Regions from separate parts of the Homo sapiens genome. Here region 2 is linked to region 1. Evidence: fine-mapped expression QTL. A gene starts in region 1. The other region holds a variant in brackets. All regions are shown on one strand. Distances are between the middles of the regions.

Region 1 (5,375 bases):
AAAAAATAGTGCTTGATGGCCTGGCGCGGTGGCTCATGCCTGTAATCTCAGCACTTTGGGAGGACGAGGCGGGTGGATCACCTGAGGTCGGGAGTTTGAGACCAGCCTGACCAACATGGTGAAACCCCGTCTCTACTGAAAATACAAAAAATTAGTTGGGTGCGGTGGTGGGCTCCTGTAATCCCAGCTACTTGGGAGGCTGAGGCAGGAGAATTGCTTGAACCCAGGAGGCGGACGTTGCGGTGAGCCGAGATCATGCCATTGCACTCCAGCCTGGGCAACAAGACCGAAACTCTGTCTCATTAAAAAAAAAAAAAAAGTGCTTGAGGCTGGGAGTTTGAGGCTGCAGTGAGCCATGATCATGTCACTGCAACAGAGTGAGACCCTTTCTCCAAAAACAAACAAACAAACAAACAAACAAAAAACTAAAAAACCCCTGAAAGCTATTGCTTTCAGTGGTAAAGTGTTGTATCAGTGGTTCTCCAAATGTGGTATCTAGACCTGCAGCATCAGCTTCATTTGGGAGCTTGTTAGAAATGCAAATTATTCAGCCCCATCTCAAACCTACTGGATGGGAAAGTCTATGAGTGGAGCGAGTAATCTTTGTTTTAACAGTCCTTCTGGGTGAATTGATTCAGATCACACTGAGGTTTGACAGGAAAGAAAAATAGCTCAGGGAAGTCTGAGTTATGTGAAGTATGCAAAATTTGTCAGGTCCACTGAGACTTGTGTATGGGAGTTCGGGCACACTCCCACCTCCACATGCTCGGGGACAATTGTTTAAAGATATTTTGTTCCAGACTAGCTGCCTCCCCCATTTCCTTCAGGTTCCTGAAATTTGTGATACAAAGAACAATGTATAGGCAATAGCTTATGTTATTTTTTCCCCCTTTCTCATCATTCCTATTCAACCTTATGTTATGCCTCTTTTTTCCTTAGAAACCCACTTGAAGCCAGGCGGGAGGGCTCACGCCTGTAATCCCAGCACTTTGGGAGGCCGAGGCTGGCGGATCACCTGAGGTCGGGAGTTCAAGACCAGCCTGGCCACTATGGTGAAACTCCGTTTCTACTAAAAATAAAAAAAATAGCCGGGCATCATGGTGGGTGCCTGTAGTCCCAGCTACTCGAGAGGCTGAGGCAGGATAATCGTTTGAACCCGGGAGGCGGAAGTTGCAGTGAGCTGAGATTGCACCATTGCACTCCAGCCTGGGCGACAAAGCGAGACTCCGTCTCAAACAACAACAACAACAAACTACACTCTAGTCTGGGCGACAGAGCAAGACCCTGTCTTAAAAACAAACAAACAAACAAGGAAACCCCATTTGTAACTGCCACTAATTGGACTATACTTCTGGTGGGCCATCTTCAAGCTTCGGGCTTGAATAAACCCTATACTTAAATACTATTTTCTCAATCTCGTTATTTAAGGTTGACAAGGGCCATTGGGTTACATAGATTTGCTCCAATCTATGTAGTAGGCACACCCGCGGGCTCAACCTCAGCTGTTTGGGATAGTTTCCTGACTGTTTCTTAAAATTAGCACTTTCAGCCTGGCTGGATGACTCATACCTGTAATCCCAGCACTTTGGAAGGCTGAGGCAGGAAAGCTGCTTGAGCCCAGGAGTTCCAGACCAGCCCAAGCATCAAAAGGAGGCCTCACCTCTGCAAAAAATAAAAAAATTTAGCTGGGCATGGTGGCGCACCAGGAGGTTGAGGCTGCAGTGAGCCATGATTGTGTTACCGCACTCCAGCCTGGGCAACAGAGCAAGAACCTGTCCCCAAAAATAAAACAAAATAAAGATGAGCACTTTCACGAGTAAAGTGGATTGGAGGATGGGAACAGGAATCCAACACATTCTCTGCCTCTCTCAGCACCTTGGCTATCGAAGTTACGTTTATCTCCCCTGTCCTAGCATCCACAGCAGGGCCTGGAATATAGTCGGGCAAGAGTGTGTGGACTGCATGAATGTAAGCTCCATAGGGCCGCGTGTCGTCACGCTGCCAGCTCGATGCTCCGCCCGTAAAAGGCACTCACTAAAATTTTAGCGGAATGAATGGGCGAAAAAAGCGAAAGGGAAACCACGCCTTTACTAAAATGGCAGCCCGGGCTCCCTTTACCAAGATGGCTGCCGGCCCGCGTGGACGCACGGGCGGTGGGCGCAGGGGGCGGGGCAAGAGAGGGCGTGGTAAGAAGGCGGGGCCAGTGGGAGCCGTCAGGTGCAGCCCCGCCCTCCGCCCTCCGCCCGCTCCCCCCGCTCGCCCCGCTCGATTCCGGATTGGTCCGGTTCCAGCGCCGCAGCCCGGCGGCCGCGCTGTGGGGCCGCCCGGCGCTCGCCACTTCCGGCGCGTTGGGGCTGTTGGTCGGGGGCGGCCGCGCGGTACTAGCGGGCGGCTCCAGGGCGGGCGCGCGCAAGGATGCTCTAGGGGGCGGCGGCAGTGGCCGTGTGGGTTGAGGCTGCGAGGACAGCGCGGGCCCCCGGGCCTCTCCCCTGAGCCGGCCGCCTGGGCCGCGCGGTCGAGGCCTGTCAGCCTCCGCCCGTTCAGCCTCGGGGCCGGGGCCGCCGCCACCTCTGCCCGCGGAGGCCGGGGAGCCCCTGCCTGGGCCCGCAGCCTCCCCCGCGGGGGTCGGGCCCGGGCGGGGGTCCCGAGCAGCTGCCCTCCTCGCCGGCATCCGAGCCTCATTTCCTGCTTTTTCAGTTTCCTTGGGGAGGGGCGGGTGGGTCTGGATGAATTGTCTCGGGGTCCCCCGATGAGGCGACCCGGGCGGCCCTGCCCTTTTTAGAGGGTCCCCTCGGGGCCCGGTGGGGAAGGGGTTGTCTTTGCATGGGTGGGGGACTTCCCGAGTCTGCCGGGACCATGACCTGAACTGTGCGAGCGGGACGTGTCCGAAGCCCAAGAACCAGCTCATCTGAGCCGCCCCCTCCCCGGCCAGCATGGTAAGTGGAATTGGAGCCCCCTTCCCTCCTGGGGTGCCCTACCGGAAGGGTGGGAATGGGCCCCGGGGCTGCTGAGCCATCGCTGCTCTCCCCATGGCGGGGAGAGGCGCGTGCGGAGCCTGGCCGGTGACACATGCGTGCAGAGTGTGCAGCCCCGGCCCTGCGCTCCCATCCCCCCAGGGATGATGGCTCAGGCCTGGGAGGGCCCTGGGAGCGCAGCAGGCACAACCCTTGCATCTGGTGTTTGCCTCCTGCAGCTCCTCCGGATAATAACTATCGTTTATTGAGGGCTTACTACTTGCCAAGGCCCTGCGCGAAGTGATTGACAGTGCAGTAGTATTTAATGATCACACCAGCCCTCTGTTCGGAAGTGGGGAGACTGAGGCACGGAGCAATTAATTCCCCAGCTCAAGGTCAAGCGACTTTTTAACAGTGTTAAGATTTGAACCTAGGCATCTGACTTTGAACCTAGGCATCTCTAATACACTTAGAGAGCTGGGTGATTGTAGGAGAAACATCTCATCTAGCTGTAGGTTTATATATGAGGAAACAGAGCGATTTACAGAGGTCACTTGCACAGGTGATGGCAAAGTCAGGAATGGTCGTGATCTTTTGACACTGAGGCTGCTATTCTACATGCTCTGATCTCTGCTGAAGCTACCTTCCACGTTTTCTAGACCGATACTTTCAATACTCCCCTAAATGTGTGTACTCACATCTCTTTGTGTATCCACATCTCCACGTTTTCTAGACCGATACTTTCAATACTCCCCTAAATGTGTGTACCCACATCTCTTTGTTAAGCATTTGCCTTTTTGCTCTTGTAATTATTTCTGAGCCTTATCTGTCTATTGCGGTATACACAGCTCCTTCAAAGACCAAATTGTTTGAACCCTTATCTGCTCCAGCTCCTGGCACATAGTAAGCCCTTGGTAAGTACTGGATCACCTAGCCTGTGGTTGAGCACCTCGAGGAGTGGAGCTGTTCTCCTCAGTTTCACCCATTTTACCCCTGCCAAGTTAGTGGTATAATAGAGAAAGGGACATAGCTGCATCTTTTGTGATACAGACCTTAAGGCCTGTGGAATTTTCGAAACATTCAAGGGGCCTGTGGGTAGTGTGTAGGTCCTGAGATATGGAGCTTACAACCAGCTGGGTAAAGTACACCATTAATGCTGAGCAGCACCGTACAGTATATGCTATACGTATAGTGTATGTGTTTTATTTTTATTTGTTTTGAGACAGGGTCTTGCTTTGTTTCCTAGGCTGGAGTGCAGTGGCACGTTCATGGCTCACTGCAGCCTCGACCTCCTGGGCTCAAGCAGTCCTCCCACCTTAGCCTCCCAAGTAGCTGGGGCTGCAGGCAAGTGCCACCATGCCTGGCTAATTTTTTGTGGAGATGAGGTCTCACCACGTTCCCCAGGCTGGTCTTGAACCTGAGCTCAAGTGATCCGTCCTCCTCAGCCTCCCAAAGTGCTGGGATTACAGGCGTGAGCCACCGTGCACAGCTGAGTCTATGTATTTTAACATATATATTACACAGTATGAATTGTGGCAAATCAGTTAAGCTCTCAGTTCCAATTTCCTCAACTATGAAATTTGGGGATAGGATTTCTCTAAAGAGTAATCTAGAGGTATGAGGTATAACATTTAGTGGCTAATGAAAGTAGCACTCATTCCTTCCTTCATTTATTCTTTCAGTAATGCTTTTTTTTTTTTTTTTTTTGAGATGGAGTTCAGCTGTTGTTGCCCAGGCTGGAGTGCAGTGGTGCAGTCTCAGCTCACGGCAACTTCTGCCTCCCGGGTTCAAGTGATTCTCCTGCCTCAGCCTCCCGAGTAGCTGGGATTATAGGCATGCGCCACCATGCCCGGCTAAATTTTGTATTTTTAGTAGAGATGGGGTTTCACCATGTTGGTCAGGCTGGTCTTGAATTCCTGACCTCAGGTGATCCACCCGCCTCGGCCTCCCAAAGTGCTGAGATTACATGCATGAGCCATCGCGCCCGGCCTCAATATACTTAAGTTTTGTTTTTTAATTGTAGTAAAATATACATAATTAAAATTAGCCATTTTAACCATTTTTAAGTGTACAGTTTAGTGAAATTAAGAACATTCACATTGTTGTGCAACGATCACCACCATATATCTCCAAAGGTTTTTTCCCAAAACAACCTGTACCCGTCTTTTTTCAGTCTCTCCCCTGCCCTACTTTAGTTTCTATTTCTATGAATTTGACTACTTTAGGTAGCTCATGTAAGTGGAGTCATGAAGTATTTGGCCTGTTGTGACTGCCTTATTTCACATGGCACAGTGTTCTCAAGCTTCATCCGTGTGGTGGCGTGTGTCAGAGCTTCCTTCCTTTTGAAAGCTGAATTCCATTGTGAGTATGTGCTGCATTTCATATATCCTTTCATCCTTCGGTGGATACCTGGGTTGCTTC
Region 2 (5,375 bases), 65 kb after region 1:
TTTGGAGACAGAGTTTCACTCTTGTCGCCCACGCTGGAGTGCGATGGTGCGATCTTGACTTACTGCAACCTCTGCCTCCTGGGTTCAAGCAGTTCTACCTCTCAGCCTCCTGAGTAGCTGGGATTACAGGCAAGCACCATCCCACCCGGCTAATTTTTTGTATTTTTAGTAGAGATAGGGTTTCACCGTGTTGACCAGGCTGGTCTCGAATTCCTGACCTTAGGTGATCCACTTGACTCAGCCTCCCAAAGTGCTGGGATTACAGGTGTGAACCACCGTGCCTGGCCAAGATCCACTTTCTAGTTCTGATTTTGTTCCTTAATTGTCTTGTTACCTTGGGCAAGATACGACTGGACTTGACTTTTGAGCCTTGGTTTCTTTATCTGTAAAAGGGGAAGATGCAAAATATTTGTTCACTTTCCAAGACTTATGAAGATCACATAGACCAATGCAAATGAAAACTAAACACTGTAAACCACTTGGAAGATAGAATGGTATCATTAGTTTCTTAAAGAAACCTGGATTTGTAGCCCTGGAATCTGAAAAGTAAATTGGGGTCTAGGTCCATTTTAAAAATGGGTCTGTGAAGGTTTTGAAAAGTTAGGCGACTTCAAAAATGGAGCCAGCCCATCATCTTGATGACCGGAATGAACCATGTCCACAGCAACTATCAGAGGCCAGGTCATGGGCGGCCTGTGGGCAGTGCACAAGCCCTCGCAGTGGGGCCTGCAGGAATGGATGTGAAAGGTGGTGCTTCAGGTTATACAGGGTGTGTCTGCTCACCTTTCCCCCAGCCTTGAGCATATAGCAAGTCCTCAATTCACATGCATGAAGTTTATATGTATAATTATAAAGTACTTTGACGGAGCCATAATACTTGGATTTATGTGGTAACCTTTCCCAAAGGCACTTCCATATGCATCTGATGAGCTGTGCTCTTTTGAGGGGGCTAGTGGATAGTTTTGAACCAAGGAGGGATAACCTTGGTGATTGACTTGAGGGAAGCTCAGCAAGTTGAACCTAGGACAAGAGTGTGTCTCTTGGATGGGCAAGTCTAGTGGCCTGTCCAAGGACTACTCATATCATTTCTTCTTTTTTTTTGAGACAGGGTCTTGCTCTGTTGTCCAGGCTGGAGTGCAGTGGCACGATCTCAGCTCACTGCAACCTCCGCCTCCTGGATTCAAGCGATTTTCCTGTTAAGCCTCCCGAGTAGCTGGGATCACAGGCGTGCATCGCCATGCTCGGCTAATTTTTGTATTTTTAGTAGAGAAAGGGTTTACACCATGTTGGCCAGGGTGGTCTCAAACTCCTGACCTCAAGAGATCCACCCGCCTGGGCCTCCCAAAGTGTTGGGATTACAGATGTGAGCCACTCGGTCTGGCTGCCGTATCATTTCCATGTGGCTTATTCATTGTTTTTCCTGGTTATTCTCCTGGTTCACTTCATGTCGTGGATATTGTCAGTATTGCCAAGTATGAGGTAGAGACAGGACTTGGTCATTTTGTTTTCTGAGGTTGGTCCTGTCTAGTTCCAGAGCTACCCTTTGGGTCGTGAAGTTGGAATTTGCCTGGCTTTTTAAGTTACACTCTTTTCTTTTTTCTTTCTTTTTCTTCCTTTCCTTTCCTATTTTAATTTTTTTTCTAAAATATACACACCGAGTCTCACTATGTTGCCCAGGCTGGTCTCGAACTCCTGGTCTCAAGCAGTCCACCTGCCGTGGCCTCTCATAATGCTGGAATTACAGGCATGAGCCACCACGCCCAGCCAAGTTACACTTATTCTGTCTCAGACTTCAGCTTAGGTACAGAACTCCCACTGGATACCACCACCCATTGTTAGTTATTTCTTGGGCACCTCCATGTATGCCCTTGTAAACGTCTAGATTTCCATGTGGATCAGCAATGGAAAGAAACTGATCCAAGAAGGTCATGTTATTATTTATTTTCATATTTGATCTTGTCACCAAATATGTGGTCCAGTGAGACAGCCACCAGCAAAACCAAAGGAGTCTTTCAGGTAGTGAGCATTTGAGTGGAGATATCAGGGTTTGGAGCCACAAGTTGAACCTGAATGCATAGGGGAAGGAGTAGCTGTTGGAGATTGTGTTGCCTGGACTTTGCATGAAATAGAGTCTCAGAGCCCTTGAGAAAGTTAACTAGTGCAGTGGTCTTCATTGTACTACTAGGATCCTACAAAGACTTCTCACTTTGTTCCTCCACATCAGCACCTGGTTGGAGGTTGCTATTAGCACGTTTGACACCCTTGCTTTTGCAAATGGGATAATGCCCTGAGGGTCAGACTTAATGAGCTCATTTTCAGTCTGTTCTGTAGGAAGACTGCAAGTGTTACTTTCCTTACATTCAAATGTGTGAACCTGTCACCTTTGGAGCCACTGAAACTGATTTTTGCTTTCGTAATGGTTTGTAATGGAAAGAGCATTGGCTGGGGGTAAAGGGACTTGTTTTTACCTCTGGCCTTGAACAACTTATATCTCTGAATCTCGATTTCTCTCTGGAAAATAGATTTAAACTAGATGATCTGTAAGAGCCCTCTCTACCAGTCTCAGATTTTAAGATAGGTTTTTGCTTGACTTATTTTATAACTCAGTTTATGCTGCACAGTATCTCCCTCATGATGTGTTCCATGGTACCCTTGTCTTGTAAGGTTCAGGAGGGCCCAATGGTATAGACCGACTAAAAGCCACCAGTTTTGGTTACCAGGAAACTGGGGAATCTAGGCTTATGATTTCATCATTCTGCTGGAATTAAACACTGGCATGTGTGTGTTTCTAAGGAATAGTAGCATTAAATAATTTCATTGTCTGGATTTTTTTTGTACCATAGCCTACTCATGAAGGTTACTTCTCTTGTTTGGATATCTGGACGCTGTTTTTGGACTATCTGACAAGTAAAATTAAAAGTCGTCTTGGAGACAAGGAAGCAGTTCTCAACAGGTAAACTCCTCAAACACTGAAAACTAGATATGGTCATTTTGCCAGTTATTCTAGTGGCCTAAGAGACAGCCATGCATTTGGACCTTTTCAGTGAAGCTGAGTC[A/T]TGTAAGCTGTTTAGGCAATAATGCCATTGAGCATTTCCTTTTTTTTCTCCTTTAAGTATTTTGTTAAGACTTTTTAAAATTTTAAAAGTAATATGTATTACTAATTTTTTATATTTTAGTGCATTTGTGTTAATGTTCTTAATTTTTTAATAGCCCTTATTTTAGAGATACAAACTGAAGTATTTATTGGATAAAATGATATGACATCTGGGATTTGCTTAAATAACCCAGTGGGGGTAGAAGGGAAGTGGGTTCCTGTAGAGAAGAAACAGGCTGCCCATGTGTTGGTGATTGATGTTGGAGTTAGTTCCTAGGAACTTGGGGTTCATTATGTTCTTACCCCATTTGTATGTGTTTGAAAATTTCCTAAATAAATTAATAAATACCTGTTAAGAAAAAGGTGTTCATTTTTAAATCTAGGAAAAGATATAGGAAAATGTAAGGAAGATAAACATAATCCCACACCCCAGAGATAATTGCTTTTGCACTTTTTGTTGTATTTTTAAAAAACAGAGAATGCGGAATGGTTTGTTTCCCCCCCCATATGTTTCTCAAACCCATTTTTCTTGCTTGCAGGAAGAGAGTATATTTCCTGTACAATATGTTCTTTGTGCCACAGGGTGGGGAGAAGAGGAGGGGAAGGTGGAGATTCAGCATGCCAGGAAAATAATGGCAGCATCCATATATGGGGAAAGTAAATGTGGCAGCTTTTCTTAGCAGAAACATACCCATCATAGTCTCAGTAGGTGACTGCATCCCAGTCACACAGTGAGCAGGCAGTCATGAAGGAGGCAAAGAAGCTATATTTTGCATTTTAGGATCAGAGTAGTTTCCTAATAAACTAAAACTGATTCGTGTAATTTGTATATTTATGCTATGAGATTACAAACTAGGTGATCTAGCCCTAAGTACTTTATCATACTTAACAGAGTGCCTGCAGATTTTACTCAGTTTGGTTATAGCTCCTACTTCTTTGCACAGTATTTATAAGAGCAATTTCAGATTAGGTGGTCATTGTGTTGTAAAACCAGTGCATGAGGGGGTTCTGTCGAGTGGAAGCCATGACGGGGAATCGCACAGACCTATGTTTGGATCCTGGTTTTGTAGTTCCTACCTAGGGGTACTTGGGTAAGGTACTTAGCCTGTGGAAGCTTCTGTTTCCTCATTTGTAAAATGAGGATGAAAATAATAGTTGTTGAGACATTAATTGAAATAACGAACTAACATATTTAGAATGCTTGGCACACTGCAAGTGTTCACCTGGTGGTGGTGTTAGTGAATACTCTTTCCCCATAAATGTACCAAATGGAGGAAGGTGGAGAGGAGAGACTCCACTGCAGAGAAAAGGTTGGGCTGGAACTCCAAAGGCTTTTCCATTGCTGAGGTTTTATGAGTTTAAAAAATTCTAAACAGGACCTAGATGTGGTAGTATGTACCTGTAGTCTCAGCCACATGGGAGGCTGAGGCAGAAGAATCGCTGGAGCTCAGGAGTTCAGAACTGTTGTGTGCAGTGATCACGCTGTGGCTGGCCACTGCTCTCCAGGCTGGGAACATAGTGAGACTCCTTGTGTCTCTTGGTACCAGTCACTGGTACCATTTGCTGAACTCTGTCTCTATTGAAAATTAAAATAAATAAATATGCAAATATTCTGTTGAGAATTTTATTTTCCAAGTTTAAACATTTGTTCTTTTGTTCCCAAAGATGGTTTTTGTAATTGTGGAATAAGTTCCAGGTTGCTATGGTGTCAGGTCACATGTGTGATTATAGGTAGTACGTTCATATATCAGAAATCGTATTACACACAGGAGATCCTGTTTTTGGTGAAGTTGCCAACTTTAAGTAATTATGTTTTTGAAATGAGATTCTTGAAGGAAAAGTTACTTTTGCCAAAATAATCTTTCTTGCATGCTAAATAGGCATATCTTTTTGGTTCTGGGACTATGCCTCATTTTTCTATATTTAGTGGTAGATATTCCTTCATATCTCTCAAGCTTGTTGTGAGAATAAACTGAGGAAATGATTAATATGAAAATGCTTTTTAAAAAACAGTACAAGGCCGAGTGCGGTGGCTCCTGCCTGTAATCCCAGCGCTTTAGGAGGCCAAGGCAGGGGGACCACGAGGTCAGGAGTTCAAGACCAGCCTGGCTGAGAAGGTGAAACCCTGTCTCTACTAAAAACACAAAAATTAGCTGGGCGTGGTGGCAGGCATCTGTAATCCCAGCTACTTGGGAGGCTGAGGCAGGAGAATCTCCTGAACCCGGGTGGCAGAGGTTGCAGTGAGCCAAGATCATACCACTGGACTCCAGCCTAGGCGACA

What was found. PIP is the estimated chance that this variant, and not a neighbour inherited with it, causes the effect. A credible set is the group of variants that fine-mapping cannot tell apart.
Region 2: its variant is the best candidate, but not a certain one, in a credible set for the expression of XPO6 in whole blood (TOPMed, PIP 0.61).

What each region holds. Positions count from the first base shown.
Region 1 is chr16:28,208,927-28,214,301 of GRCh38, reverse strand. It overlaps XPO6 (exportin 6), which reads left to right and starts at 2,337. Exons shown (of 24, transcript NM_015171.4): 1 at 2,337-2,936. The coding sequence starts at 2,934. RefSeq lists silencers at 2,100-2,589, 5,100-5,375 and an enhancer at 2,219-3,217.
Region 2 is chr16:28,143,672-28,149,046 of GRCh38, reverse strand. XPO6 (exportin 6) reads left to right here. Exons shown (of 24, transcript NM_015171.4): 9 at 2,844-2,953. Among named protein-coding and RNA genes, the nearest start is that of XPO6, 66 kb to the left of the region's middle. RefSeq lists an enhancer at 1,963-2,478. The variant A/T (reference allele first, on the strand shown) is at 3,057.